5 separate regions of the Homo sapiens genome follow, and all the other regions are linked to region 3. Evidence: fine-mapped expression QTL. A gene starts in region 3. Each other region holds a variant in brackets. All regions are shown on one strand. Distances are between the middles of the regions.

Evidence for each region. PIP is the estimated chance that this variant, and not a neighbour inherited with it, causes the effect.
Region 1: its variant is the best candidate, but not a certain one, in a credible set for the expression of ACTR2 in putamen (GTEx, PIP 0.53).
Region 2: its variant is the best candidate, but not a certain one, in a credible set for the expression of ACTR2 in hippocampus (GTEx, PIP 0.50).
Region 4: its variant is the best candidate, but not a certain one, in a credible set for the expression of ACTR2 in whole blood (INTERVAL, PIP 0.81).
Region 5: its variant is the best candidate, but not a certain one, in a credible set for the expression of ACTR2 in memory regulatory T cells (Schmiedel 2018, PIP 0.66).

Annotation. Positions count from the first base shown.
Region 1 is chr2:65,293,366-65,299,592 of GRCh38, reverse strand. It overlaps LOC124907781 (a long non-coding RNA gene), which reads left to right and starts at 3,810. Exons shown (of 2, transcript XR_007086472.1): 1 at 3,810-6,227. RefSeq lists a silencer at 3,621-3,803. The variant G/C (reference allele first, on the strand shown) is at 3,725.
Region 2 is chr2:65,257,125-65,263,351 of GRCh38, reverse strand. It overlaps ACTR2 (actin related protein 2), which reads right to left. Exons shown (of 9, transcript NM_005722.4): 7 at 1,960-2,105. Among named protein-coding and RNA genes, the nearest start is that of ACTR2, 32 kb to the right of the region's middle. The variant A/G (reference allele first, on the strand shown) is at 3,558.
Region 3 is chr2:65,224,690-65,230,916 of GRCh38, reverse strand. ACTR2 (actin related protein 2) reads right to left here and starts at 3,086. Exons shown (of 9, transcript NM_005722.4): 1 at 2,960-3,086. The coding sequence starts at 3,007. It overlaps LOC124907779 (a long non-coding RNA gene), which reads left to right and starts at 3,318. Exons shown (of 2, transcript XR_007086461.1): 1 at 3,318-3,436. RefSeq lists enhancers at 2,155-2,244, 2,317-3,205, 3,206-4,095 and a silencer at 2,745-2,934.
Region 4 is chr2:65,269,327-65,275,553 of GRCh38, reverse strand. It overlaps ACTR2 (actin related protein 2), which reads right to left. Exons shown (of 9, transcript NM_005722.4): 9 at 4,301-6,227. Among named protein-coding and RNA genes, the nearest start is that of ACTR2, 45 kb to the right of the region's middle. RefSeq lists an enhancer at 1-461. The variant C/T (reference allele first, on the strand shown) is at 3,230.
Region 5 is chr2:65,286,492-65,292,718 of GRCh38, reverse strand. LOC124907781 (a long non-coding RNA gene) reads left to right here. Exons shown (of 2, transcript XR_007086472.1): 2 at 1-1,468. Among named protein-coding and RNA genes, the nearest start is that of ACTR2, 62 kb to the right of the region's middle. The variant A/C (reference allele first, on the strand shown) is at 3,709.

The DNA.
Region 1 (6,227 bases), 69 kb before region 3:
GAATAATTCTGGCCAGTGGGCTGTAAGTGACCGGGGTGAGACACTTGAGGGTCAGTGTGTGATCTGCCTGCATCCTCCATACCCTGTCCCAGCGATGTGCCCCTCCCCCGGGGCAGTTCTAGAGGCCACACATTGAGGTGGCAAGCCACAAGATGAAAGCAGATTGGGTCACTGAGTCACCATAGGGAGGACAGCTGACAGGGGAGTTCCCTGAGTCGGGGGTGAATGAGTAAGTGAAAAATAAATTTGGTAATAGGCCAGTACAATTTCAGGTTTGTTTGTTACCACCATATACTATCCTGACTAATAAAAAAAATAGTGGGAATTTATAAAATAGTGACGAGGCCGGTTACAGTGGCTCACGCCTGTAATCCCAGCACTTTGGGAGGCCAAGGCAGGCAGACCATTTGAGGTTAGGAGTTTGAGACCAGCCTGGCCAACATGGTGAAACCCCATCTCTACTAAAAATACAAAAATTAGCCAGGCATGGTGGCAGACGCCTGTAATCCCAGCTACTCAAGAAGCTGAGGCAGGAGAATCGCTTGAACCCAAGAGGTGGAGGTGGCGGTGAGCTGAGATCATGCCACTGCACTCCAGCTTGGGCGACAGACAAAAACTCCTTCTCAAAAAAAGAAAAAGAAGCTGGGCGCAGTGGCTCACGCCTGTAATCCCAGCACTTTGGGAGGCCAAGGCGGGCGGATCACGAGGTCAGGAGATTGAGACCACGGTGAAACCTCGTCTCTAATAAAAATACAAAAAAAAAAAAAAAAAAATTAGCCAGGCGCGGTGGCGGGCGCCTGTAGTCCCAGCTACTCAGGAGGCTGAGGCAGGAGAATGGCGTGAACCCGGGAAGCGGAGCTTGCAGTGAGCTGAGATTGCGCCGCTGCACTCCAGCCTGGGCGACAGAGTGAGACTCCGTCTTAAAAAAAAAAAAAAAAAAGAAAGAAAAAGAAAAAGAAATCGTGACAAGGACACTAACCACTGCCTGCTACCAGCAGGGGAGGCATCACTCATTGGTACTGTACCCACTCCCCTGGGCCTAGAGAGGGCATCAAGATCTTCTTGAGCCTTAGTAACAACCAGAGACGAGACAAACCTCTGTTGAGCAGGCCTGCTAGAGCCAAGGTCCTCCCCACCTTCTATGTGACCTTGGGCAAGCTACTTCAACTCTCTGGACTTTGATCCATGCCTCCTTTGGTGATCTAGGCATGAAGGTCCCCATCTGCCCAGGCAGCAGTCTTCACAGACAACCTTTACAGTTCCTGGCTGCCCTAAGGGTGCTGTGATGAAATGGCGGCTGGAAAGAGGAAGCCCTGCTATCCATATTCTTGTTTACATTCAGAAATGTCCCTGGGGTGCCCAGGTCTGTATCTGTCAAACCTGGAGGGTCGTTCGTATGGAATATCCCAAAGCCGAGGGCCTGCATGGCCTTCTTGGTGCCACCCTCAATGCCTTTGCGATGCTACAAGTGCAATCTCTGAGCTAGTGACCTGGACAGTGAACCCACCTGTCCTGGGATATCATCTTGCTCTTGTTATTAAAAGCACAGCGTTGCTCACACACGTGTGCAGGGGCATTTCCCTGAAGATGCGCATTGCGGCATTATTGCTGATGGCAAAAATGTAGACATCCTAAATGTCCCTAAGGAGCAGACTGGTTAAGCGCCTCTATATCTATACGACGAACCATTATTCAGCCATATTAAAATCAGGCAGCTGTCTTTGTTAGGTTTTGCTAAAGTCTTCCGAGAAATGTTAAGTGCCAAAAGCAAGGTGCAGACAGTGTGGATAGTGCACACCCATTTTATATATATACACGTAGACACAATCGTGTACACATCTGTGTGTGTATTCTCTGTAGTCGGAAGGTAAACAAGGAAGCAGTAACGGTAGTTGCCTCTGGACTTGGGTCTGGTGGGACAGAGAGTTAATTTTTATTGTAAGCTCTTGTACTTTTCTTTTTAACCGTATATGGATGTAGTCTGTTTTCCTTTAGGTTATTTATTTATTTATTTACTTATTTATTTGAGATGGAGTTTCTTTCTTGTTGCCCAGACTGGAGTGTAATGGCATGGTCTCAGCTCACTTCAAACTCCACCTCCTGGGTTCAAGCGATCCTCCTGCCTCAGCCTCCCAAGTAGCTGGGATTATAGGCACCCGCCACCATGGCCAGCTAATTTTTTTGTATTTTTAGTAGAGACAGGGTTTCACCATGTTGGCCAGGCTGGTCTTGATCTCCTGACCACAGGTGATCCGCCTGCCTCCGCATCCCAAAGTGTTGGGGTTACAGGCATGAGCCACCGCGCCAGGCCACCTTTACGTTTTTTAATCAGGGAAGTAAAGAAGGAAAGCATTGGCTTTGGAATCCCAATCTTAGATTTCAAGCCAAGCTTTGCCACATCAGAACTGTGTGGTTTTGGGCAAGCCTCAGTTTTTGCATATGTGAAATGGGGATAACAATAGCTCCTCCCTCTTGGGTTGTTGTGAAGATGAAAGGAGACAACGTGTAAGCGTTTAGCACAGGACCTGGCACCCAGTAAGCTATTTTTTGATGAGGCCCAAAAAGCTCACTGTCCATTTGACCACAGGACCCAGATATCTGACAGAATCATTAAGACCATTCCTTGAAGTGGGAGTGTTGGTAATGGTTTTAATATTTTATCACCTGGCAGCGTCCTGTGGAAAACACTCATTCGTAGCCTCTTCCTGTGCTTTGCCCAGCCTGCTATTAACAGTCCCCAAAGCCTTCGTAAAAAGTATGCTTCTCCATATGATTTCCCAAAACTCGTAGTCAATAGACAGGATTGATGTATAGCTGGGTGAACATCCTTTTCTCCTTGAGCTTTTACGGAGGATGTGAGGGAAAGGGCTCTTCTTATCAAATGAGGGAGAAAAGACTCTCAAAGCCATTATGTGTCTGACACCAATTCAATTACCCCACCCATGCCCTTTTCAGCTAAGCACTTCCTAAACTTCATTAGTGCTGCAGCAATGCTGCCAGCTGACACCGTACCCTTTACTGAAAAATGTTGTACACAGAAGAGGACAAATCTCCACTGCGGCAGGTCATTGCGGCATTCCTGCTTCCTGACTAAGGTGACCTGGGTCTTCCTCCCAGGCGGAGTGGAGGGTCCAGGTGAGGTTTCAGGGCTCAGTCGGAACCTGCCCCTGCCTGATTCCCATCACCCAGAGTTTCAAGTTATCTTTCTAAAAAAATCTTAAGGCCGGGTACGGTGGCTGACACCTGTAATCCCAGCACTTTGGGAGGCTAAGGAAGGCGAATCACTTGAGGTCAGGGGTTCGAGACCAGCCTGAGCAATATGGTGAAACCCCGTGTCTACCAAAAATACAAAAAAAATTAGCCAGGCATGGTAGCACATGTCTGTAGTCCCAGCTACTTGAGAGGCTGAGGCAGGAGGACCACTTGAGCCTGGGAAATGGAGGTTGCAGTAAGCCGAGATGACAGAGTGAGATTCCATCTCAAAAAATAAAAAATAGGACCGGGCGCAGTGGCTCACGCCTGTAATCCCAGCATTTTGGGAGGCTGAGGTGGGTGGATCACAAGATCAGGAGATCAAGACCATCCTGGCTAACACGGTGAAACCCCATCAGTACTAAAAATACAAAAACAAAATTAGCTGGGCGTGGTGGCGGGCGCCTGTAGTCCCAGCTACTTGGGAGGCTGAGTCAGGAGAATGGCGTAAACCTGGGAGGCGGAGCTTGCA[G/C]TGAGCCGAGATCGCACCACTGCACTCCAGCCTGGGAACAGAGCGAGACTCTGTCTCAAAAAAAAATAAAATAAAAAAATAATAATAATAATAATAAATAAATAAATAAATAATAAAAACACTTAAGACATGGAGTTGTGTATCCTACTTTGGCTTATTTCTCATAGGGAAAACAGCACTATGTTCTATCCCACTGCCCCAGCAGAGCCCAGCCTCCCCAACCATAAACGCTGGTGTACTTGTCTGTTGGACCAAAGATTATAAGAGGCTTGAGGAAAGGTGACGGTGCCTTACTCATGCATGCAGCATCCACCAATGCCCGACTGCCAGTGGGTGGTGAGTAGATACCAGGAGACTGAGTTCTTAGAGCTATGGTCCTGGACCCAAGGGAAGGATCTTGGAAGCCCTGTTGGTTATGGAGGATAGAGCTGCTTGCCTTTGAAAAGACCAATGGACTTGGACCATGAACATAAAGTTGCATTATCCATGATGGACTGGAGACCAGAGACCCTTCCCTTCCCAGGCACCTGTAAGTTGCTGGACTCACGTGTAGCCATGGGTGAAAAGAAGACCTGCCTCTTGAAATATGACTGAGATCAAATTCCTTGCCACCATGGCAGGTGGGAGCTTGGAGTACTGAGTAAGTGTCTGTACAACGATGGATGACCAGTACCAAGGCCTTGCAAGATCTTCAACCATCAAATGAAAATTCAACTTCTTTTCATAAGTTCCAAGGCAGAGGGTAGGCTCTCCCTATTTAGAAAACTGTTTATCCCTATTAGAAAGCAGAAATTCTTCCTTGTACCTCACATTATGCCCCTCCTCAACCCCTCCACTGGCTTCTCATCTCTGAATAAATATCCGAAGTTCTTATCTTGGCCTTCCAGTCCTAGGAGATCTGGCCCCCACTCACTCTCTGACCTCATCTCCTAACACGCTCCCCCTCTTTTATTCCCTTGAGCCACAATGTTCCCCTCGTGTGCCTCCTTGTTCCTGCCTCAGAATGTTTGCCCTTGCTGTTTCTTCTGCCTGAACGCTCAGCCCTGGGATCTCCGCATGGCTTTATCCCTCACTTCCTGCTAGTCTCTGCTCACAAGTCACCTCTTTAGAAAAGCCTTCCCGGATCACTTTATCTAACAGAGTATCCCTCTCTCAGCCTTGCCACCCCACACTTTTTGTTTACCATACTTTATTTCTCTCCAAAGTCCTTAGCTGACATATACATGATATAGTTATTACATTTGTCTGTAGTCTGTTTCCCCCAGATTTTATTTTACTGACTTTGGAATCCCCAATGCCTAGAACAGTATCTGGCACATAGTAAGGATTCAAGAAATATTTGTTGAATTAAATAAGTGAATTTATCCAGCAAATACAACTGCCCCAGGCCACCACACTCCATGGATATTCCCCTGAAGTGAGATTTGATTGGGCATGAGCTGCAGAAACAGGATAGAGTGCTGGAGCTGGAAGAGACCTTGGGATCACTGACTTCTGCCCTTTCACAGGGCTGCCGGGGCACACAGGGTGTAAACCTGCCGTGAGGCCTGGGGCTTTCCTGTGATCTTAAGGAGGCTGCCTTGTTGAGGGAGATGCCCAGCCCAGTGGCTCTGCGGTGTCTTCTCCAACATCACTGGGCGGGAGCACAAGGGAAATTCCTTAGGCAGTGAGAGCTACCCGAGAAAATAAACTTGGGAAACCCAGGTTCTGCGGATCTCTTACTTCTCAGGGCTGCAGGTAAGTTTCTGTGTGTTGCGATTCTCTGAGATGAAATGACTGTACATCTCATTTCTCAAACTTTTTTTTAAGCCTTTTTTCTGGTGAATCCTTTTATGGGATTTGTCTTTCCAGGGACACATTTGGGAAAACGCTGCTTTTTTGCCTTTTTACTGGCTGAAGCACCTTCTGAACAGGCATGGGGAAGCTACAGGGGTCAGTGGCTTTTGTTAGCTAAAGAACCCAGAGATGGGACTTTTCCTTTCCTTAAGGCCAGGGCTTGCCAGCTCCTCCCATCTTTTAGAGGAACCCCAAAGCATACCCTTTTCTACATTCTGCTACCCCCTGGCCCCCCCCAGACCTGAAATGGCTCCCTTCAGTCTCTCTTTTCTTCAGCCCCCCAACACTTGTCTCACCAGGCCCAGCTTTTCCTTCTGGATGTCGCTTGCCGCCCGCCTATCCTCCCACCTGCCTCCTGAGGCCTGGTTTGGAGGTTCTCCTCCTTCCAGGAGCCCAGCGCTGCCTCTAGGAGAGAGAATTATCCTGGAAACTCCCCCTTCTCCCTGCCTGACAGCAGCCCCTGCTGAACTCCACAGCCGCAGCTGGGAGCCATTTAAATAGCTGATGCAGGGTGGGCTGGTGGCTACTGCCTGTAATCCCACACTTTGGGAGGCTGAGGTGGGAGCACTGCTTCAGCCTAGGAGTTCAAAACCAGCCTGGGCACTATAGCAAGGACCCTGTCTCTAAAAAAGAAAAAAAATAGCTGATCTGCATCTGAAAGGAGATA
Region 2 (6,227 bases), 32 kb before region 3:
AATAGACAAATGGCAAACAGAGAGAGTATCTGTGAAAGATATCAGAAAGCTAAAAGAAAACTTTTCAAAACTGAAAAAAAAAAAAACCCAAAACTCCAAAATCTACAAAAAGCCATTAACAATTTGCCAAAAAAAAAAATTTAAAATGTCCCTTAAGGCTGGGCGTGGTGGCTCACGTCTGCAATTCCAGCTACTTGGGAGGCTGAGGCAGGAGAATCACTCCACCCAGGTTGCAGTGAGCCGAGACTGCACCACTGCACTCCAGCCTGGCGACAGAGCGAGACTCTATCTCAAACAAACAAACAAGTCCCTTAAACATATAAAAATATGTTTTATATATATATATATGTTTTTTTTTTAGGAACTTTCTTTTGTGGCGGTGGGGAGAGACAGGGTCTCACTCTGTCACCCAGGCTGGAGTGCAGTGACACAATCATGGCTCACTGCAGCCTCTACCTCTCAAGCTCAAGCAATCCTCCCACTTCAGCCTTCTGAGTAGCTAGGACTACAGGAGTACACCACCACCATACCTGGCTAATCTTTTTGAAAAAAATTTATGTAAAGACAGGATCTCCATATGTTGCCCAGGCTGGTCTTAAACTCCTAGGCTTAAGCAAACCTCCCACCTCAGCCTCCAAAGTGCTGCGATTACAGCCAGAAGCCACCACCCCTGGTTTGACTTCACTCTTAATGACAGAAATAAAAAGTAAAATTACACTGAAATAATTTCTCACTCATCAGATCGGTGGAAAAGGATAAACGATACAATTGCCAGAGAGGGAAATTTGGCAATATCTAACAAAAATATACATGCATTTACATCAAACTAAGAAGTTTCTCTCAGCACTTTGGTAGGCTGAGGTGGGGTGGATCACTTGAGGCCAGGAGTTCGAGACCAGCCTGGTCAATACGGCAAAACCCCATCTCTACTAAAAAATACAAAAAAAAAAAAAAAAATTCTGGGCATGGTGGTACATGCCTGTAATCTCAGCTACTTGGGAGGCTGAGGCAGGAGAATCGCTTGAAAACGGGAGGCAGAGGTTGCAGTGAGCCAAGATTGCACCACTACACTTCAGCCTGGGTGAGAGAGTGACATTCCGTCTCAAAAAACAAACAACAACAAAAGAAGTTTCTGCACAGCAAAGGAATTAATCAACAAAGTGAAGATATAACCTATAGAATGTGAGAATATATTTGCAAATCAGACATCTGATAAGTGGTTAATATCCAAAATATGTAAGGAACTCAAATCTCAAATGACTCAATAGCAAGAAAGCAAATAACCCAATTAATAAATGGGCAAAGGACCTGAATAGACATTTCTCAAAAGACATACAAATGGAAAAAATGCTAAGCATCCCTAATCATCAGGGAAATAAATGCAAATTAAACCACAATGAGATATCACTTCACATCTGTTGGAATGGCTATTATCAAAAAGAGGAAAGGTAACGAATACTGGCGAGGATGTGGAGAAAAGGAAACCCTTGTACACTGCTGGTGGGAGTGTGAATTAGTACAGCTATTACAGAAAACAGTATGGAGGTTCCTCGGAAAGTTAAAAATAGAACTACCATATGATCCAGCAATTCCACTACTGGGTGTATCTCCAAAGGATCTGAAATCAGCATGACTATGTAAGAGAGTATCTTTATCCTTAGGAAACACCAACTAGTAAAGAACTGATGCATTTAATCTACCCTCAAACGGTTCAGAAAAAACAGAATGAAAAAGCAAACATGAAGAACATTAGAATTAGTAAAATGGTAAATCCAGATAAAGGATACAGATAAGTTTTCTGCATTTTTCTTGCAACCTTTCCGTAAGTCTGAAATTATTTCAAGTAAGTTTATAAACTTAGTCATTCTATTTAATTCCATCTATTTCTGATAAATAACTTTAAAACTATTTTTATGATTTTTCTGATAAATAACTTTGAAATCACCACTTCTAATGTACCTGGTATCAATGTCAGCTGCCTGAATTGTGTTAAAAAGCAATTCAGCAACACCAACTCCTTCAACATTGATCAAGTGAGGCTGAAATAAAGCTTCTGGTGCTTCAAATCTCTCTCCCCCAACTTTGATGATACGTCCATCTGGGAGCTAGAAACCAAGAATAATCAGGTACTAATCAGCAAAAGATTAAAATTTCCCAGTGTTCTCCGGAACACTAGTACTTATAAATACATCTGTTCTGTAACCAAAATCATTACCAACAACAATTTTTCCTAAAATATATTTGGGGAAAAAAAGGTAAATTAAATAGATTTAGGTAACTGCTCTTATCACATTCTGTTTTGCTTTTAAAAATGTTATGCCAGGCTGGGCGTGGTGGCTCACGTCTGTAATCCCAGCACTTTGGGAGGCTGAGCTGGGCGGATCACAAGGTCAGGAGATTGAGACCATCCTGACTAACACAATGAAACCCTGTCTCTACTAAAAATACAAAAAATTAGCCGGGTGTGGTGGCGGGCGCCTATAGTCCCAGCTACTCGGGGAGGCTGAGGCAGGAGAATGGCGTGAACCCGGGAGGCAGAGCTTGCAGTGAGCCAAGATCACGCCACTGCACTCCAGCAGGGGCAATAGAGCGAGACTCCATCTCAAAAAAAAAAAAAAAAAAGGTATGCCACGCCCCCAAATATCAGGAATTTCTTGGAGAAATCACTGATGCATGAGTGCATGATGTTTGCAGCAAAGCAGAAACAAGCATCACTGACCAACCATTGTATTTTGATTATTGCTGGTATGTGTTACTACAGTTTTATAATTTTAACATATTTGTGATTTTATGGATATTTCTGCTATGTAGAACAGACATGTTAAAACACTGATTGACTGATTGATTGAGACAGAGTTTCTCTTGTCGCCCAGGCTGGAGTGCAATGGCACGATCTCGGCTCACTGCAACCTCTGTCTCCTAGGTTCAAGCAATTCTCCTGCCTCAGCCTCCTGAGTAGCTCGGATTACAGGCATGTGCCACCACGCCAGCATATTTTTGTATTTTTAGTAAAGACGGGGTTTCATCATGTTGACCAGGCGGTCTTGAACTCCTGGCCTCAGGTGATCTGCTCGCCTCAACCTCCCAAAGTGTTGGGATTACAAGCATGAACCACTGCGCCTAGCCACATTAAACATTTTAAATAATTTTATTTCATCAAATAATTACTCTGTGAAACTATTATTTTGCCAAAATACTTTATAACATGTGTACCACTTCTATCAAATCATTTAATCCAAAAAATGTCTTATGATCAAAAAAGTTTACAGAACACTGGTCTAGACTATTTTTATTAGGCAATTCTGTTGTATCCTACTAGGTCCTAATACATTTTAAGTAACTGATAAATATAATTTCAATTTAAGCAAATAAGATTTAAACAAATCAGGTATCATATTATGACTTTGTACAAAAAAATCTTGTCAGTCACACATCATGTTCATATTTAATTAAATGAGAAGTGTTAAGTAGAAACTTCCTCTCATAACACCTCACAATTCACTGGATTGTCCTAAGTAATAAGCACGCCCATGTATGCTAGCATTTGACACATTTCC[A/G]TGAGATACCAGAATTAATTTTACATTAACAAGTCTAACAGTACATTTATAATTTAATTTTTTTTTGAGACAGAGTCTCGCTCTGTTGCCCAGGCTGGAGTGTAGTGGCTTGATCGTGGCTCAGTGCAACCTCTGCCTACTGGGTTCAAATGATTCTCATACCTCAGCCCCCCAAGTAGCTGAGATTACAGGCATGTGCCACCACGCCTGGCTAATTTTTGTATTTTTAGTAGAGACAGAGTTTCTGCATGTTGGCTGGGCTGGTCTCGAGCTCCTGGCCTCAAGTGATCTGCCTGGCTTGGCCTCCCAAAAGTGCTGGGATTACAGGCATGAGCCACCATGCCTGGCCCTACAATACATATATATTTTTTTTGAGATAGGGTCTTCATCTGTTGTCCAGGCTAGAGGGCAGTGGTGTGATCATGGCTCACTGCAGCCTCAATCTCCCAGATTCAAGGGATTCTCCCACCTCAGCCTCCCAAGTAGCTGGCACTACAGATGCACACTACTATGGCTGGCTAATTTTATTTTTTGTAGAGACGGGGGTCTTGCTTTGTTACTCAGACTGGTCTTGAACTCCTGGGCTCAAATGATCCTCCCATCTTGGCCTCCCAAATTGCTGGGATTATGGGGAAGAGCCACCGCGCCTGGCCAATTACAATGATTGTTTAGATTCCAGCTTTGGTCCCAGCTACCTAGGAGGCTGAGGTGGGAGGATCACCTAACCCTGGGAGATTGAGACTGAAGTGAGCCGAGATCATGCCACTGCACTGCAGCCTGAGCAACAGAGTGAGGAAACCCTGTCTCAAAACAGAAAGAAAAAAAAAAGGTTACCAAAACTTATACCCTTAAAAAAACCACCTCCACCTTCAGGTGGGTTCACATGAAATCACCCAAAATATCTGGAAAAACTTCACACAGCAGATCTTATTAGCAAAACCTCCTGCCTTAAGCACTTGAAGCCTGATAGTGTGGCTTCTCTCCATTCTCTGGCTGCTGGCCAGCATGGGGTCAAGTTTTCTAATCACCTTAATGAACTGTTAAAACTGCAGGCATCCCATTTCTTTGCACCAAATCTTATCCTGTTCTGTATTTGTCCACCCATGTCCCTCCTCACTTATTCATCAGCTTATTACTTTATACTTGTGTATATGTGTGTGTGTGCATATATATATCAAATATATATATGGATTTTGTTTTGTTTTTGAGACAGGGTCTCGCTCCTTCACCCAGGCTGGAGTGCAGTGGTGCAATCCTAGCTCTCTGCCTCAAAACTTGAGCCTTGAACTCCTGGGCTCAAGCAATCTTCCCACCTCAACCTCTCAACTAGCTAGGACTACAGGCACGTGCCACTACGCCTGGCAAATTTTTGTATTTTTTTTGTAGAGACAGGGTCTCATTATATTGCCCAGGCTGGCCATGAACTCCTGGCCTCAAGTGATCCTCGTATCTCAGCCTCCCAAAGTGCTGGGATTACCGGTGTGAGCCACTACACCCAGCCTATTTGTATATATTTTTGTAGCCTACCTCAAATTCTTTGAGAAAAGAGAGAAGGAAGAAATAAAACATGTTTTACATTCCTAGTTTGCTTATCTTTTGCCCTGTGCCAGCCACTTTCTTCCAAAATAGTCAGGTAGATGGAAAATCAGACAACTAGAGAAACTGTCAAGAAGACTTCAGGAAGGAATCTCCAGAGCAAATCTGGAGATGATTAAGTTACAAAATGGGTTTACTCCTAGAAGAAAACCTAGCCAATACCATTCAGGACATAGGCATGGGCAAAGACTTCATGACTAAAACACCAAAAGCAATTGCAACAAAAGCCAAAATTGACAAATGGGTTCTAATTAAACTAAAGAGCTTCTTGCATAGCAAAAGAAACTATCATCAGAGTGAACAGGCAACCTACAGAATGGGAAAAAATTTTTGCAATCTATCCATCTGACAAAGCCTTAATAACCAGAATCTACAAGGAACTTAAACAAATTTACCAGAAAAAGACAAATAACCCCATGAAAAAGTGGGCAAAGGATACGAACAGACACTTTTCAAAAGAAGACATTTATGTGGCCAATAAACATAAGAAAAAAAGCTCATCATCGCTGGTCATTAGAGAAATACAAATCAAAACCACAAAATCTCATGCCAGTTAGAATGGCGATCCTTAAAAAGTCAGGAAACAACAGATGCTGGAGAGGATATGGAGAAATAGGAACGCTTTTACACTGTTGGTGGGAGTGTAAATTAGTTCAACCATTGTGGAAGACAATGTGGTGATTCCTCAAGGATCTAGAACTAGAAATACCATTTGACCCAGCGATCCCATTACTGGGTATATACCCAAAGGATTATAAATCATGCTACTATAAAGACACATGCACACATATGTTTACTGCAGCACTATTCACAATAGCAAAGACTTGGAACCAACCCAAATGCCCATCAACGTTAGACTGGATAAAGAAAATGTGGCACATATACACCATGGAATACTATGCAGCCATAAAAAAATGAATGAGTTCATGTCCTTTACAGGGGCATGGGTGAAGCTGGAAACCATCATTCTCAGCAAATTAACACAGGAACAGAAAACCAAACACCAAATGTTCTCATTCATAAGTGGGAGCTGACAATGAGAACATATGGGCACAGGGAGGGGAACAACACACA
Region 3 (6,227 bases):
ACACCCGGCTAATTTTTGTATTTTTAGTAGACACGGGGTTTCACCATGATGGCCATGCTGGTCTCAAACTCCTGACCTCAAGTGAACCTCCTACCTCGGCCTCCCAAAGTGCTGGGATTACAGGCATGAGCCACAACGCCCAGCCTAAAATCAGCCTTCTAATGTTAGCTAACTAATGGAATAGTAACATAACATTAGCTTCTGACAGCAGGGTGCAGTGGCTCAAGCCTGTAATCCTAGCACTTTAGGAGGCCGCAGTGGGCAGATCTTTTAACCCCAGGAGTTCAAGACCAGCCTGGGTAACATAGGGAGACCCAGTCTCTACAAAAATAAAAAAATTAACTGGGTGTGGTGGCACAAGCCTGTAGTCCCAGCTACTCGGGAGGCTGAAGCAGGAGAACCGCTTGAGCCCAGGAGGCAGAGGTTGCAGAGAGCCGAGATCACGCCATCGCTCTCCAGCCTGGGCAACAGAGCTAGATCCTGTGTCCAAAAAAAAAAAAAAAAAAAAAAAAATCAGCTTCGGTTAACATTCCCATTCTAATTTAATATTTAAAAACTCATATATACTACAAATACAGGGCTCATTACCTTGAACCCCTAAAAGAATTCATTAAAATATAACTGGCTTGACTTTCTAAAAAGAGTATCTGACACAATCACAAAACAAAAAATTTTAAATTCAATTTTTAAAGTTTTTTATTTATTTAGAGGCCAATTTGAAACTATAGTGGAAATCAGGCTAATACTTTTTTAAAAAGCACATTTAACTGAATTTTAGCCGCACATGTAACATGCGTTTATGGTTAATTTAGTTTAAATATAGTTTAATAATACTTGCTTTGTTCAAATAAAGAACATTTTTCCAATAATTCAGAAAGGTCATGAAGTCCTCTCCATCTTCCCTCACTCCCTTATCCTCTGTCTCATAGGTAACCATTATGAACATTTCTTATGTATCCCTCCAAAACTTTCATATGCGGATACAAGTTTGTGGACATACATCTTTAATAAGGAACACACACTTAAACTGAATCATTCTAAAACCTTTTTCAACTTAAAATCTTAGACGTTTCCATAGCAGTGGATCTGCCTTTTTAAAAATATTACATTCTTAAAAACCGTCACATTAATATGTTTTGTTTTTCTTTTTTTTTTTTTTTTTTTTTGAGACGGAGTCTTGCTCTGTCGCCCAGGCTGGAGTGGTGCGATCTCGGCTCACTGCAACCTCCGCCTACCGGGTTCAAGCGATTCTCCTGCCTCAGCCTACCGAGTAGCTGGGATTACAGACGCCCACCACCATGCCCGGCTAATTTTTGTATTTTTAGTAGAGACGGGGTTTCACTATGTTGGCCAGCCTGGTCTCAAACTCCTGACTTCAGGTGATCCGCCCGCCTAGACCTCCCAAAGTGCTGGGATTACAGGCATGAGCCACCGCGCCTGGCCTCAATGTACGTTAACACTCTTTTTACTCTAGTCCATTTTTAACACAGTTCAGATGAAGCTACCATAATTATTGCTTGTAAAATTGTGTAACAAATCTAATCAAGGGCAGTATTATGGCAGTAAATACCAGCTCTTTTCCCCCTCAACAATTCAGATTCCAAAGTGTTTTGTTCAAGTAAAATGAACTTTAATTCATACATCATATTTATGGGAGGGAGGGGAGAAAACTCACAAAATGTTGCAACATCAAAATGGTTAGAAATCACTATAGAAGTCATCCAGAATAAATAATATTTCCATCTTCTAATTTGCTGACTTTGCTACCCAAAATACATTTTTTTTTAATCTGGCAAGAGGGAGGTCTGAATGAAACAATTTTTTTTTTTTATAATTGAGACGGAGTTTCACTCTTGTCGCCCAGGCTGGAGTGCAGTGGCGCAATCTCGGCTCACTGCAACCTCCGCTTCCTGGCTTCAAGGGATTCTCCTGCCTCAGCCTCCCAAGTAGCTGGGATTACAGGCAAGCACCACCACGGCCGGCTAATTTTTGTATTTTTAGTAGAGACCGGGGTTTCACCACGTTGGCTGGGCTGGTCTCGAACTCCTAACCTCTGGTGATCTGCCCGCCTGGGCCTCCCAAAGTGCTGGGATTACAGAAACAATTTTCAAATAGTTTCTAAATCAGTGCTTTAGTCAGATTTTACAATTTTTGAATCTTAAAGGCTAACATTACCTGTATACTGAAACGAAGGGAAAAAAGGGGGCTGGGGGTGGGATAATCAACACTAATTAACTTCCCCTAAGGCTAGTGGAATTAACACTTGAGTCTTGCGGGATCCTAGGTCACCCAAAACCACTCAATGGAACATGCTGGTCTCCGTGGGCCTACTCCTGGGCCAAATACTAGTATGTAAAACAAAAAGTGAACGATGCGCTGCCGATCTGGACCCCTTCCCTCGAAAAAACTAATAAAAAGCCCAACAAACACAGCGAAAGGGCTGAGGTCCACACTCCATGACAGCACTTCCCTTTTTTTTTTTTTTTTTTTAAGTAAACCCGCTTCCTGCTTCTCGTTTGGTGTATCTTCAACTATACAGGAAGAGGAAGGCCTCTAGGTCTTTCTCCTTTTTACAAACCGGTGGCCCTGGGGAAAAGAGCCCTTCTCGGAACACACAAACCGAGCCTTTTACGCTTCCGTCCGCTTTAGCCCAATTGCCCCCGCATTAGCGCGGAGCAGGTCCCTGCCGGGCGGTCAGTAGGCTCCATGTCCAGTGCCGGTCTCGCCCGCCGCCCCCACCCGGAAGGGTGAGGGGGTGGCAGGCTAAATGGGTGGCAGGCTCAAGGGAGACCAGGGAACGGCCGGCTCGCTCCCACGCCCGCGGAGGTGGGAGGCACCGCCCCGCGCCCCTTCGCCCCGAGGGCCCGGAGGTGCAGCCCTGGGGGCCGAGGGCCCGTGCGCCAGCTGCTCGTCCCCGCCGGCGTCTGTGGCCGCCAAGGCCTCCTCGCGCGGCCCTTACCCCGGTGCCGTTGTCGCACACCACCACCTTCCTGCCCTGGCTGTCCATCGTCCGCCCAGGGAAGAGCCGCTGCAGCCGCACAACCTACAGCCACCGCCGCCCGGCCGTTTTCTCTTCTTCCTCTTGCGTCTTCCCGGCCCCTCCTTCGGCCCAACTTTTTTCCCCCGACCGGAAGCCGCCGCCGGGCTCCGCCCGTCATTTAGCTGAATGCCTGCACGAAAAGGGTGGGACGGGCAGGCAGCGCGACTGGCAGCGGTGAGCTCCAATAAAAGATGGAGGAGCGTCGAGGCCCCTCCCGCAGCTCCGCTTCCGGCTCGGCTGTCACGGTCGCTGCCCACCCGGGTTCTTCGCTGCTTCTAGTTCCGGGCGCTTTGCCGGGCGTTAATGGCGGCCAACATCGCCGGTGCTGCGGCTTTCTCCCTAAAGTGTCACAGGAGCTAAGGGCGCTGCTTAACGAACTGCAGAAGACGCAGGCAGGTGAAGGACACCGGTTCTGCTGCGGCAGTGGAATGTGGCGGAGAAGCTGGCGGGTAGGGCGGGGAGCAAGCCTGGAGGTCCTGGCGGACCCCACCATTCGACAGGGCTTGGTGTGTTATTGCTTCTAGGCCTTTTCAGCGGACAGAACTGGGATGGATACACACATGCTTATTTGAAATCATGCGTTTGTTCCATACTCCAATGTCAGCCCACCCCTTCTTTGCCCAAGTTGCTCTATGGTCAAGTGAGCGAGAGCAGGTGCCTGCATTTCCAGCCTCGTGGCTCACCGCCTCCTTCCAGTAGTCCCATGTTGCTTCACACCTCTTAAGTACATGTACTTCTGTGAACCCAGAGCCTTGGCTTTGAAATCAGACAACCCCAGTTTCAAACGTGGCGCTGCCACTCACGAGTTTTGTGATTTTGGCATACCCCTGTCTGCATGGGGATAATAACTTCTATCTCCATAGGTGTGGTGAGGATAAAAGTCTATGCATGGAGGAAATGTTCATTCAGTGGTAGCTATTTCTAATTCTGTTCTTCTGGACCTATGATTCTATCTACGATGCCTCATTTTTTTTCCTTTTTAATCAATTGGCAAACTTGTGCTCTGAGACCCAGCTTGTTACATCTCTGATGACAGCTGATATCCTCAGGATATTCCGTACTTCCTTTCTCCCTATTACTTTACTATGAATATATGAATAACATTGTGCTTATTGCATGCAACAAATATTTATTAGATGAATGACATTAAAATTCACCTTTAAAATGCCATCCTTTATGAGAGGTGAGAAATAGAACTTTTCCTTCGACATGGCTGTACATGTTCAACAACTAGAATAAAACAGTCATCATGAACCCTCAATCCAGTATTCTTTTTATAATATAGCTGCCTGTCAGTTTTCACTGTTCTTTTATTAGACCAGTGATTTTCAAACCTTTTTAAAGGCATACAGTGCTTTATTCAAATCTAATCTTATATGGAACCCTCAACACATAAATATTAAGATAAAAATAAAGCTGCCATTGTTGCAATTAGAAGTTTGAGAGGTTAGAATAGGTAGGAAGTCTCGGAGGAACATTTCTTCGTTTTACCTGCTTTAACAGTCAGAGAAGTACCTCAGCCAGCAGAAAAATTTATTTGTTCATAAATTCCTTGAGTATAGAGTCCGTATCTTATTTTTGTGGCCTCCAATGCTAGTGCTGTGCAGTTTTCTTGAAAGTGCATTTTATTGGTCTCAGCAAATTGAACTCAAGCATTTCTGTGTTCTTTTACTTTTCCTCTTTGTGGAATTAAGGGGATTGCTAATTTGTATTTTTAAAGAAAGAACATTATTCCGGGCGCGGTGGCTCACGCCTGTAATCCCAGCACTTGGGGAGGCCAAGGAGGGCAAATCACCTGAGATCAGGAGTTCAAGACAAGGCTGACCAACATGGCAAAACCCCGTCTCTACTAAAAATACAAAAATTAGCTGGGCGTGTTGGCACGCGCCTGTAATCCCAGCCACTCAGGAAGCTGAGGCAGGAGAATCGCTTGAACCCGGGAAGCAGAGGTTGCAGTGACAGAGATCGTGCCACTGCACTCCAGCCTGGTGAGAGCAAGACTCTGTCTCAAAAAAAAAAAAAAAAAATTGGCAAGTTTGGCCCTAAAATTTATATGAAATGAAAAGGAACCAGAATAAAAGGATTTCGAAACAGAAAAAGATGGAGAACTTCCACTACCTGAATTCAAAACTTATTATAAAGCTACAGTAATGAAGACTGTAATACTGGCATAGAGGCAGATATATCGATCAATGGAATCAAATAGTCCACAAATAAACCTTTACATTATGGTCAGTTGATTTTCAACAATGGTGCTAAAACAATCCATGGGGAAAGGGTAATCTTTTCAATGAATGATGTGGGAGGGAAAAAAAAGAACTTTGATTCTTACCTCACATCACACATAAAAATTGATTTAAGTGGATCATAGACCTAAATATAAAAGCTAAAACTATAAATTTCAGAAGAAAAAGAGGAAAATCTTTTGATATTAAGTTAAGCAAAGTTTGCTTAGATATGACGCTAAAATCGTGATCTATAAAAGAAAAAATTGATAGTTGACATAATAGAAATTTAAAGCTTTTAGTTCATGTATTGAAACAAAAAATCTAGACTGGGACAATGGCTCACATCTGTAATCCCAGCACTTTGGGAGACCAAGGTGGGTGGATCGCTTGAGCTCAGGAGTTCAAGACCAGCCTAGGCCAGATGGTGAAACCCCATCTCTACAAAAAATACAAAAATTAGCTGTGCATATAGTCCCAGCTACTTGGGAGGCAGAGGTGGGAAGATGGTTTGAGCCCAGGAGGCAGAATTTGCAGTGAGCTGAGATTGCGCTACTACGCTACAGCCTGGGTGACAGCCAGACCCTATCTAAAAAAAAAAAAAAAAAAAAAAGAAGAAGAAAACAAAAACAAAAAATCTTGGTCTGTCTTAGGCAACAAGCAATTAAAAAAAAAGTAGAAAATAAAGCAAAAGGGCCGGGCGCAGTGGCTCACGCCTGTAATTCCAGCACTTTGGGAGACTGAGGCGAGTGGATCACCTGAGGTCAGGAGTTTGAGACCAGCCTCGCCAACATGGTGAAACCCCATCTCTACTAAATACAAAAATTAGCTGGGCGTGGTGGCGGGCACCTGCAATCCCAGCTACTTGGGAGGCTGAGGCAGGAGAATTGCTTAAATCCAGGAGGCAAAGGTTGCAGTGAGCCAAAATCATGCCACTGCACTCCAGCCTGGGCAACAGAGCA
Region 4 (6,227 bases), 45 kb before region 3:
CTGAATTTCCTCAGGAACCTACCAATTTTCTCCAATGCACTCCTTAGGCCAAAGTTACAGACCTTCCTTTCACTTACATCACAAAGAGCTGCTAATCTCCCCTAGGCGTCAGTGTGAGTCTCTGGATTTCCTTTTAATACAAATGGATGTGTAAATGACTGATGGTGCTTTAACCATCCCAGAACTGGCCTTTTTAATGAAAAGGTGTTTATCATCCATTTGAACTGAAGATCCATTTGGGGGAGGTGGAGCAGAGGTCAGCACACTGGCAAAAGATGGTCTCTAAGTGGTTCCGGCTTCCCAGGGCTGCTTCCTGTGTCACTTCTGAACCCATCTGCTAAAAGCCCTAGTTTTCCCCAGGAAGAGGAGGAAAGAAGGGCATTGCAGGTGTGGGCCCAGGAGAGTGGTTCATACTTTGAAGCCTGACTGTCCTCTTAGCCCCTAAAACAGGAGTATGAGAGTTGTGGGGGAAGAGTTGGAAAACAAGCAAACCCTCAGGCTCCATTCGGTGGTCCAGAGTGGGGCTCAAGGAAGCCTGCTTTTTTTTTTTTTTTTTTTTTTTTAAGATGGAGTCTCGCTCTGTCACCCAGGCTGGAGTGCAGTGGCTGATCCCAGCTCACTGTAACCTCCACCTCCTGGGTTCAAGCCATTCTCCTGCCTCAGCCTCCTGAGTAGGAATAGTTGGAATTACAGGCGACCGCCACCATGCCCGGTTTGTACTTTTAGTAGAGACAGGGTTTTGTCGTGTTGATCAGGCTGGTCTCGAACTCCTGACCTCAGGTGATCCCCCACTGCCTTGGCCTCCCAAAGTGCTGGGATTACAGGCGTGAGCCACCGCGCCCCGCCTAAGAGCCTGCATTTTTAACAAAAGGAACATGTGATTCTGACCCCATACTGAAAAAGACATTTGAAGGACAAGTAATTTGTTTTAAAAATACAGATAATCATACTTTAGCTACATCACTTCCTGTGGGATGTTTTCATTTTAGAGACTCCTTTAGAATTCCAAGTTGTGTAAGCAGGGAACTTAGAGGTTGAATATTATCTGCTTGAATTCCACCTAAACTACTAAGTAAAAGCAAAACAAAGAGGACAGCCTCCTTAATTGATTCTTTGAATCAAGGTCCTTTAAATTGTCACCATAGTTTAGGTTCCACTCCTTCCTAATAGCTCTTAAATAAAAATTAATTAATGCCAGAAGCTTTCAAATGTAGATCTAAGTTAGCAGGGAAAAAAAAAACACATCTGGAGGTAAATTGTAGGTTTCCAATAAAGGGGTCAAATGTGTATTATCAATTTAACAACTGAGCCTCATTTAGGCCCAAATTTCTTACTCTTCAAACACTAAGTTGTCACAAAATATAAAAATATAAGAATATATACATGTAAACATAAGAAAATATGAAAATATAAGAATTAACAACTCAGGAAACCCTTAGATTTTTATATATTATTATTATTGAGATGGAGTCTCGCTCTGTTGCCCAGGCTGGAGTGCAGTGGCATGATGTTGGCTCACTGCAGCCTCTGTCTCCTGGGTTTAAGCAATTCTCCTGCCTCAGCCTCCTGAGTAGCTGGGATTACAGGTATGCGCCACCACACCTAATTTTTTGTATTTTTAGTGGAGACAGGTTTTGCTATGTTGGCCAGGCTGGTCTCAAACTCCTGACCTCAAGTGATCCGCCTGCCTCGACCTCCCAAATTGTTGGGATTACACAATGCCCAGCAAGATTTGGTTTTCTAAAGTAAAATAGATCGCTTAATTTTCTTGTGCACAGACACCTCGAAAAAAATCTCAACCCCTACAGAACATCAAGGCACTCACATAAACATACTCATTTAAAATGATCCAATTAATATTGTGGCAGACTTTTAGAATTTCCCTAATTTCTTAAAACCTCCTTTGATATTAATGCATTTGCATTCACATTTTTATGATTACATTTTCTGTTTTTTGAGATGGAGTTTCACTCTTGTTGCCCAGGCTGCAGTGCAATGGCACAATTTCGGCTCACCACAACCTCTGCCTCCCGGGTTCAAGCGATTCTCCTGCCTCAGCTTCCCAAGTAGCTGGGATTACGGACTTGTGCCACCACACCTGGCTAATCTTGTATTTTTTAATAGAGACGGGGTTTCTGCATGTCGGTCAGGCTGGTCTCGAACTCCGACCTCAGGTTACTGGCCCCCCTCAGCCTCCCAAAGTGGTGAGATTACAGGCCTGAGCCACCGTGCCCGGTCGTAATTACACTTTTATGCACAAAAAGTATAATTTTAAAAATCCTTATCCTTGAGAGTTGAGGCCCTTTTTCAAACCCATATTTAAGGAAGAACAAATATTTTACTCACTGGAGTTTTCTTTTTACCGATTTTTTAAAGCATTCATCAGGCAAAAGCTCCACTTGCTGTGAATGGCAAAGGGTACAGTTCTTAAAGGCTACCCTGGGCATAAGAATCACTCTGTAATACCTTTGTGATTGCTTTCTGCACTTGCCAAACCCAAACCTTTCAACTGGTCCATGAAAATCTACTCAACATTCTCTAATTCTTCTATTCCTACGTCAAATGTTTCATGGAAAATTATATGCCAAGTCTTTTCCAGTCTTTCCTTTTTTCCTCTGGTGGGTGGGAGGAGTTGAGGGGGTAGATATGAAAGAGACAGGAACTCCATTCTGCCAAAAGGAAGAGATAAATCATTTGAATTCCCCCTACTCAGATATTTTACATCTGCAGATAACGCAAACTGAGACACTTATAATAGGCAACAAGACTTTTTGTCACTGCCAGTCTAGATAATTTAAACAAAAGTAACTATGGTTCAATAGCTTCTTTCTTCCTAATTTCAGATGTTAAACAATACAAAGAAAGATGCTTTAGAATGTTTTTAAAATGTTATATTAATGTGAACATCACTTGAAATTTTTGTAATAGCTGCCTATTTTCACCTCCTCTAAATCAAGTTTATTTCTATTCTATGACTAAAAGTTACTTTCAATATAATGGTTAAAGTCACTAATTTTAGCCTTTTAGTTATTCACACATGCAAACATGCTTTCCCAGGTACGTCCCCTTACCTCCTCCACTTACCTCTGATGTAGCATTTTTCAATCTTCAAAGAGGTCAGAGATTTTTGAGCCAGAGGAAAAAAGTATCCCAGTATTGTGTGTAGTTGGCCAATTAGTCCAAGGTTAGAGAGCATGTTAAATATTGAGCTTAGCCGGCCGCGGTGGCT[C/T]ACGCCTGTAATCCTAGCACTTTGGGAGGCTGAGGCGGGTGGATCATCTGAGGTCGGGAGTTCGAGACCAGCCTGACCAACATGGAGAAACCCTCTCTACTAAAAATACAAAATTAGCCGGGCGTGGTGGCGCATGCCTGTAATCCCAGTTACTTGGGAGGCTGAGGCAGGAGAATCGCTTGAACCCGGGAGGTGGAGGCTGCGGTGAGCCAAGATCGCTCCATTGCACTCCAGCTGGGCAACAAGAGTGAAACTCCGTCTCAAAAGAAAGAAAAAATCGAGTTTAGATTAATCCTCGAGTTTCTGGTTCACTTTAGTTGGCTACCCTCTTTGATGGTTCTAAAATTAATACAGTTAATAAACTCACTCAATTGTATAATGGTCAAAGTTTGTGGGTGGAGGAAAAAAATGAAGTGCACTGAGAGACATTCATTCCATCAAAGGCACTATGCAGTGCCTGGTATTTTCTTCCTCCATTACATATGGAGATAGCTGTTATCATATTCTTCTTCCGCAACTCAGAAGAAACTAGATAAAACACCAGAGACAACCCTTACGTTCGCTGTCTGGGACTCCGGCCCTGAAGCGGGCAATGAGGTTTGCACATACAAGTCCACGAAGAAGGAAAGGCAAAAATACTCTCTCTACTCTCCAGCCCTCATCCTCAAGGCTAGTATAAAACAAGAAAAGGTCAGTTAAATGTATTTTCATCCTTCTTTTATTTGTTAAAAATAATATGCCTAAAAGTCTGCAGATGAGCTAATATGTCCTTGAAAGGGGGCATGTTACATACAGGTCTCTTTAGCATTTCTAATTCTGTGAAAGCCACCTTAAATCTTTTGGGAGACAAAACAGTTTGTTGGAAGAAAACAGCCTCTGATGTAGCTATAAATCGCTATTCTATTTTCTTATGTATTTATAAAATCATACCAGAAATAATGAGTTGTTTTGTCAATAATAGAACACTGACATGAACTTGACCTAACAACTAGCATAAACTGTCAATTCATCTTGCATTAACAAGAAAATGAAACAAGAAATAACTATTAGAAAGAAATGACAAAATTCAAATTGACTTTGAAAAAATCTGATTTTATTTTCTCAATCAAAATGAAGTATTTCATGTTAATTTAGACTGTTTAGCTTTCCACTGATATCTCAAGATACTTTCCAGATATTAACAGTACTCAGAACTGTGTAAAAGTTAACCACCAAAACCATGTTTTAAAGAAAAAAGTTTAAATGTAAGACTAATGTCTTGGGGACTTTACTAAATGTATTTCTAAAAAAACCCTTCTCAAATGTAGAAGTATTGGCAATTCTAATTTAAAAATTTTAAATTTTTAATTATTGGAAATTTAAGTAGCAATAGTTTCAAGAGCTAAGAATCAGATTGCTTTTTAAAACAGAATTTTTTTTTTTTCCTGAGGGACTCATACTTGACAACTCCAGTTAAACATAATACTCCACCCAAATCCCAAATTTAAATGCATTATGTCACCCTGGAATAGTAAAATTATAAAATGGTATTTCTAAATTATAATATATATACATAATGCACCATTTTAACTGTCACATTTACCAGCAGAATTATGAAATCAAAAACAAATTCTACATTCAAGGGACAAACGATAAATGCTCTTTCATTGTTTTAAGAGTCCATTCCATTCTTTGTTGTTTTCTACTCCCATATTTTAAAATTATGACCAAAGGAGCCTGAAGGCCAAGTCAATCCCATTTCCCTGAACCCAACTGCCAGTAGGTACGGGCCCTACATACGCGTCCTTTAACAAGCCCCGTTCTCAAAAGGCTGGGGGTATTTATATAAGAACTTATTCCAAAGTGACTCTAAGATCCATGTTCCCAAGATCTAGTACGGGCTATTCAGGGTTCTGAGGCATGTCCAGCATGCAGGCAAACTTATCTGTTCAAATTGAGGTAAAACAGACAAAAAACACTTAATATTAACAGAAGCTACATAATTAAAACTAACCTTCTGCTGCTTATTTAAGCTAATGATGTATTCTTACCAAACAGAGACCCTCAAGTCAATCATTTCTTTTGATTTTAGTTACCACCCCCAAATTAAGCCTCTTCTTTCAAAGCTATTATTAGTTAAAAAAAAGTTTTAAAATGAAGAAAAATATTTTTTCCAGAACTTGTATTTTGTAATTAGTGTGATGCAATTTCTTTTTATTTTTCAAACTTAGAAATAACTCATGTATGGTACTATTTGGTATTTTTTTCAGATACCAAGGAATACCGACAGGATTCATAAATAGGATTTTCTGACACTGGCAGGAAAGTCTGCTAACGTTTACAAAATACCAAAGACTCTTCTTTCAAGCTTCAAAGATGGCTGAGAATTAACAGTTATGATTAGTTTTTCAGTACAAATAAAAAAATTAAATCTTGATTTTTTTGGCCAACATTTTAAACAGTCAAATTTTACTGTATTTCCAGGTTTCAAATCAAAACAAACAAAACAACTAATGAAAATTACCCAATTGGCAACAAGTCCTGTATTCCAATGTTATTTTTAAACCACCAATTATAACCTACTGCCAGTAATTATTTGTAAGTACCTGCTTGTTTTATTAAGCACTGGTCAGTTATATAAAAGAATAATTTGCAAGAATGATACTTGGCAATGGGTTACCTTAATGCTTCTGGAATAAACAGAAGCATTAACAAAACACCAGATCTTAAGCTCTTTTAAATCTGTAATTCGAATTACCCAAAGGATTTTTAAATGTTACTTTTCCATTGAAGGACTGTAGGGAGTCTAATCCCAGCTAACATGGTTGATTTTAAAAAACAAATAAATCCCTAAGCCACATAGTAATGGAATACTACACTTGCTTTTTATATCATATGGAAACAGCTCCAGGCAGAGCACAAGTAGAAGAAAACCTGCCAAATCAAAGTACTGTAAATAAAGTTCCTCTACGTACTCCAGTTGACAAAACCTCAAAAATAAAAATCAGAAGACCACCCA
Region 5 (6,227 bases), 62 kb before region 3:
AAGCAGATGTGGTAGCCGGGAGCCAAGTCTTGGGGGCTCAGCGCTGGGCTGAGAAGGGGACGAGCTCCAGGCCCGGTGAGTTGGAAGTCTCGGAGAAAGGCTGACTGGCTTCACCTCGCCTCCGCCGCCCAGGGGCTGTGTGAGCAGGCTTTGGCAGCGATTTCTCCAGCAGGAAGGGATGAAGCCCTGACCAGGTTCAGAGGCAGCGGGTCAGGACCGTGCCTGGGCTCAGTCCCGCCCTGGCTCCTTCGCTTCTCGCCGCTGTGAGCCTGGGCAGTGGCTTCGCTGCTCTGGGCCCCACTTTCCTCAAGCGTTAGCAGGACAGTGGCACTCTATTTTGGAATCTCATGAGAATAAAATGAGATGATGCATGGACAACCTGCACATAGCAAGTGCTAATAATTACCATCTCTTAAGTTGGTTTGAAGGTCCAAAGCCAGTCCCTAATTGAGTAGCCTCCGGTAGCTCAAAGTACATGGCTGGCTTAAGGCCTGGGATCCTTTCCCAGTGCTAACCGAGCTGCCATAAATGTAACTCATGGAAAGCAAGCTCCAGGTCTGACATGGGCGGGGCCCATCCTGCTGAGATACAGTACAGCCTCAAGTGGATTTATTAACCCAAAGAAACTAGCAGCACAACTTGTGTGCTGACACCTGCTAGTCACTTCATACCTCACGATCCCCTTTTCACGGAACAGGACATCCATCTAGGCACAGAGAGGATAAGGTTCTGCCCAAAGCCACACAGCATGATAAATGGCGGAACTTGGGTCTAAATACTGCATCAGAAGACAGTATCTCTGCTCACCCCTATTTTGTTTTGCAACCTCTGGAATTTTCCATTCCATTTGTTTAACGCCACTTATAATGAAGGCCTCCTCATGCATCTTGAGAAGGCATGTGTTCAGTGGTACAGTATACAAACTCACTTCTCCCACATGCTGGCCGCACTAAGTGCCACACCTTGAAATAATTCTGAGACATTCTTCTTAGGATATTTGTGGCATAAGGAGGAAGCCCTTGGTGCCTTCGTGCAGCTGTGTTCCTCTAGGATAGCAATTGTGATAAAGACCCAGGGCCGGCTGGTGACTGAAACGGGAGTGGTTTCTACCAAATCCTGTGAGCAATTTAGACTCTCTTGGGTATTCCCTAAACAGTCATCATCAGACTGGGAGGAGAGAGCAAATATTACCTGAAATGAGGCCGCTTGGTGGAAGACATTGGAGAAACACAGCTGGAAAGATGGACGCTCTGCGGTTCAGAAACACTGGAGTTTCACATTTGACCTCTGGCTTTCATGTGAGATGAAAGGACAGAACACTTTTCCAAAGTTATTTTCTCTTTACATGAGTTCAAGGGCTGTGGTGAAAGTGAGGAATCCAAAGTCTACCCAGACTACTTCCTCTTATTTTGATTTATGCCAGTGGTTTATAACTTTTTATAATAAATATTTTGTAAACTCCCTTTAACATCCCAGATGAAATTCATGGATTACATAACCTCTCTAAACACATTTTTTTTTTTTTTTGAGACGGAGTTTCAATCTTGCTGCCCAGACTGGAGTGCAGTGGGGCGATCTCGGCTCACCGGAACTTCCGCCTCCTGGGTTCAAGCAATTCTATTGCCTCAGCCTCCTGAGTAGCTGGGATTACAGGCATGTGCCACCATGCCCAGCTAATTTTGTATTTTTAGTAGAGATGGTGTTTCTCCATGTTGGTCAGGCTGGTCTCAAACTCCCAACCTCACGTGATCCGCCTGCCTCAGCCTCCCAAAGTGCTAGGATTACAGGGGTGAGCCACTGTGCCGGGCCACACATTTTTAAAATTAGTTGTAATACCCTAACTCTAACACAGGGTTTCTCAACCTCAACACTATTGACATTTTGGGCCACTTTACTCTTGTGAGGGGGCTGTCCTGTGCATTGTGGGATGTTCAGCAGCATCCCAGGCCTCTCCCCACTAGATTCAAGAAGCACCTCACCCCCAGTTCTGGCAACGAAAAGTGAATGTCCCAGGGCAAGGTGGGACAAAATACCCCCAGCTGAGAATCACTTCTTTAACATAAAGGATAGATTTTTAAAAATGTGTAATAAAATAACATGTACTTTAAAATATAAATGCTCAGGTGTGGCTGCACAGCAGGACACACTGAAGCCACCAGATGCCTGCACCTACTGATAATGAATGGGTTTGGATTTAAGGGAAATAAGAAGATCAGAAGCTATTTTCATAAGAAGAACAAAAAAATAAAAGAACATACCGGGCGTGGTGGCTCACGCCTGTAATCCCAGCACTTTGGGAGGCTTGAATCCGGGAGGCAGAGGTTGCAGTGAGCCGAGATCACGCCACTACACTCCAGCCTGGGCGACAGAGTGAGACTCTGTCTCAAAAAAAAAAAAAAAAAAAAAGCAGAGGTATGAATGGACATTAGAATAAAAAATAAAAATTAGTGTTAGGCTAAGTAATAATAGAGAACACTTATCTGTATATAAAAGAAAGAATAAAATAACGTTATTTAAAATAGAGATACAGGTTGAGCATCCCTAGTCTGAAAATCCAAAACCCAAAATGCTCCAAAATCTGAATCTTTTTGAGTGCTGACATGATGCCACCATGGGAAATTCCACACCTGACCTCATGTGATGGGTCACAGTCAAAACACAGTCAAAATGTTGTTTTTCATGGACAAAATTATGTAAAATATTATATAAAATTACCTTCAGCCTATCTATATAAGGTGTATGTGAAACATAAATGCATTTCGTGTTTAGACTTGGGTCGCATTCCCCAAAATATCTTATTATATACATGCTAATATCCCAAAATTCAGAAACTCTGAAACATTTCTCATCCCAGGCATTTCAGAAAAGGGATACTCAATCTGTAATATACTAAAACAAGCTACAGACTCAAAGTCATGAATGATCTGGGGCTTATTTACAAAATACAGCATCACTGTGGTTCCTCGATTTTATGACCTGGGATAAGGGTATGTTTTGGAGAGAGTCTCTAGCACTTAAAATGAACTTGGGGGCTGCATCCTGTGAGAAACAAAGGACAGTGAGGATGGATTTGAAAGAGGCCACATCATAGTCAATAGTAATTCTTTTTTCTTTTCTTTTTTGAGACAGAGTCTCGCTCTGTTGCCCAGGCTAGAGTGCAGTGATGCAATCTCGGCTCACTGCAACCTCTGCCTCCCGGACTCAAGCGTTCAAGTGATTCTCCTGCCTCAGCCTCCCTAGTAGCTGCGACTACAGGCGTCCACCACCACACCCAGGTGATTTTTTGTATTTTTAGTAGAGACAGGGTTTTACCGTGTTGGCCAGGCGGGTCTCGAACTCCTGACCTCAAGTGATCCACCCACCTCGGCCTCCCAAAATGCTGGGATTATAGGCGTGAGCCACCGTGCCCAGCCCACAGTCAATAATAAATTAATTGTACATTTTAAAATAACTTAAAGAGTGTAACTGGATTGTTTGTAACTCAAAGGATGAATGCTTGAAGGGATGGATACCCCATTCTCTATGATGTGCTTATTTCACATTGCACGCCTGTGTCAAAACATCTCAGGCCAGGCGCCGTGGTTCACACCTGCAATCCAAGCACTTTGGGAGAGTCCAAGGTGGGCGCATCACCACAGCTCAGGAGTTTGAGACCAGCCTGGCTAACATGGCAAAGCCCCATTTCCACAAAAAAAACAAACAAACAAA[A/C]AAAAAATTAACCGGGCACAGTGGCATGAACCTGTTAATCCCAGCTACTCAGGAGACTGAGGCAGGAGAATTGCTTGAGCCCAGGAGGTGGAGGTTGCAGTGAGCTGAGATCGTGCCACTGCACTCCAGCCACTGCCCTCAGTGACGGAGTGAAACCTTGCCTCAAAAAAAGACAAAAAAAAAAAAAAAAAAAACCTATGACATCCTTGCATTTCATGAGTCTGCTCTTTTATATTTGGCTCAAGATTTGTTTAAATAAATCTCAAATCTGTTTCTTATTTTCAGTTGGTTTCATTGTACAGTAAACTCCCTACTGTACTGAAATTCTTTTCAGTAAAATTTATAATCAGAAATGCTCAATACATAGAGCAAGCAACCAGCACAGTATGAGTAAATTAATCATTTCGGGGCAAGACGTTTCTTCCATTTAAGTTTCTCTCTATAGGCCAGGCGCAGCGGCCCGCGCCTGTAATCCCAGCTCTTTGGGAGGCTGAAGGGGGTGGATCACTTGAGGTCAGGAGTTCGAGACCAGCCTGGCCAACATGGTGAAACCTCGTCTCTACTAAAAATATAAAATTAGCTGGGTGTGGTGGTGCAGGCCTGTATGTAATCCCAGCTACTAGGGAGGCTGAGGCAGGAGAATCGTTTGAACCTGGGAGGCAGAGGTTGAAATGAGCTGGGATCACGCCACTGCACTCCAGCCTGGGCGACAGAATGAGAGTCCATCTCAAAAAAAAAAAGTTTCTCTCTATGGAATGGTCTTCTAAATTACTGGGCTTTTCAAGTAACTCCTTTCAAGTTATTTTCAGGATCATTGTGTTCTAATTATTGATGATTTACATTTGTAGTGAGTTTAGGCTAGGGGAACATCTGAAAGTCATGTGGGGCATGAGAGTTCTTTGTTGTCTGGGACTCTCCGACACATTGCAGGACATCTAGCTTCCTCCCCATCCCCAAATGCCAACGGCAGAGTCAACAAAAAAAGCACACCTGCCAATTTTCAAAACACCCCCTTTGGGCCACCACAGCTCTTGCTAAGTGCTTCAAGCTTACGTGACCACACCCCAGATGTGGAGGCTGCCCCCCAAGACCACATTGCCAAGGCGCTCACTTTGGGTGGACACAGACTCTTTGAGCGGATGCAGACTCGTTCCCTCCCAAGGGATGGCAAATGGGGCACAATATAGGTATTTCTATTATCTCCTCTACTATTATTTCTACTACTTCTAACTTCTATGCAATTTTGATTTGCCATAAATCACTTAATGAAGTCCTCAATGTATGGTATTAGCAAGCAAAATAGGTAAGGTTTGTTGAGTTCCCTGCGTGTCAGACCCTGGGTGTTGGGTCTATTATTTCATTCAAATCTCACAATAACCCTATGAGGTAGATACTATTATTAGCCCCCATTTTATAGATGAGAAGACTGAGGCGAGAAGACAGAGAGGAGAATTTAGGGAAGTTGTCCAAAATGGGCCAAATAGTGAGCGGCAGAATCAGGATTTGAACCCACGCTCCTACTCTACTTGCCATATTGCTTCCCCAGAACTGGCTTCTTTGGATTAAATTTAAGGAAAAGATGTAAATGGTAGCAAAACATATTTTATAAAAATTTTATTTATACCCAAAGTTTATCTGAACTCAGTATACATTCAGCACAGTCCCCATACCACCTGTCCTACAGCCCGGTGTATTTGGAGAGGATGGAGTGGAGGAAGGGTTGTTTGGAATCTTGCCTTTGAGGCCCTGAAAGATACCCCATTATGAAAGAAATACTGAGCTAAATTTACCAAACCCAAAATGGCAAATCGGTTTCATTTCCAGTGTCAGCTTTGACTGATTGGTCATGGCTGCCTAGAGGTGAGATGGATTTTTATGGCAAGTTGGAGGTCAGTGTCTTCATCAATTAGTAATGTCTGCCCTGTCAAGGGAAGAGAGCATGTGGTGGCCCCCATGTTATGAATTTATTGTCCCTGCTTCCCTAGACAGGAGGTTGGAATTTTACACATTAGGAAAGATTTCAAAAATAGAAATAAAAATGAAAAGGAATTTTTGGTGGCAAATTAGTAAATACTAAATTCATCAGAAAACTTAGCTCCTCTGAATATCCTTCTCATGTAGTCATAGAAACTTTAAGGTAGGAAGGACCTTCAAGATTATTTAAACTTTTTCACTTTAGAAGAGTTTTCAAAAATAGGAATAGAAACAAAAAGGAATTTCTGGTGGTGAATTCTAAGTTCATCAGAAAACTCAGTTCCTCAGAATATTCCATTCATGGATTCATAGAAACTTAAATCTAGCAAGGTTATTTAAGATTATTTAGGTCTGTGGTTCTCACATTTGGTTAAGATCAGAATCCTCTGGGGGAATTTTTGAAAAATTCTGATACCTGTGTTCTGATTCAAGTGGTCTGGGGATGGGTCCAGGAATTAGAATGTTTCAAAAAATTTCCCTAATGATTCTAATGCACAGCCCAGATGGAGAACTACAGATCTGGTCAAAACCCCTCATTTTACAGA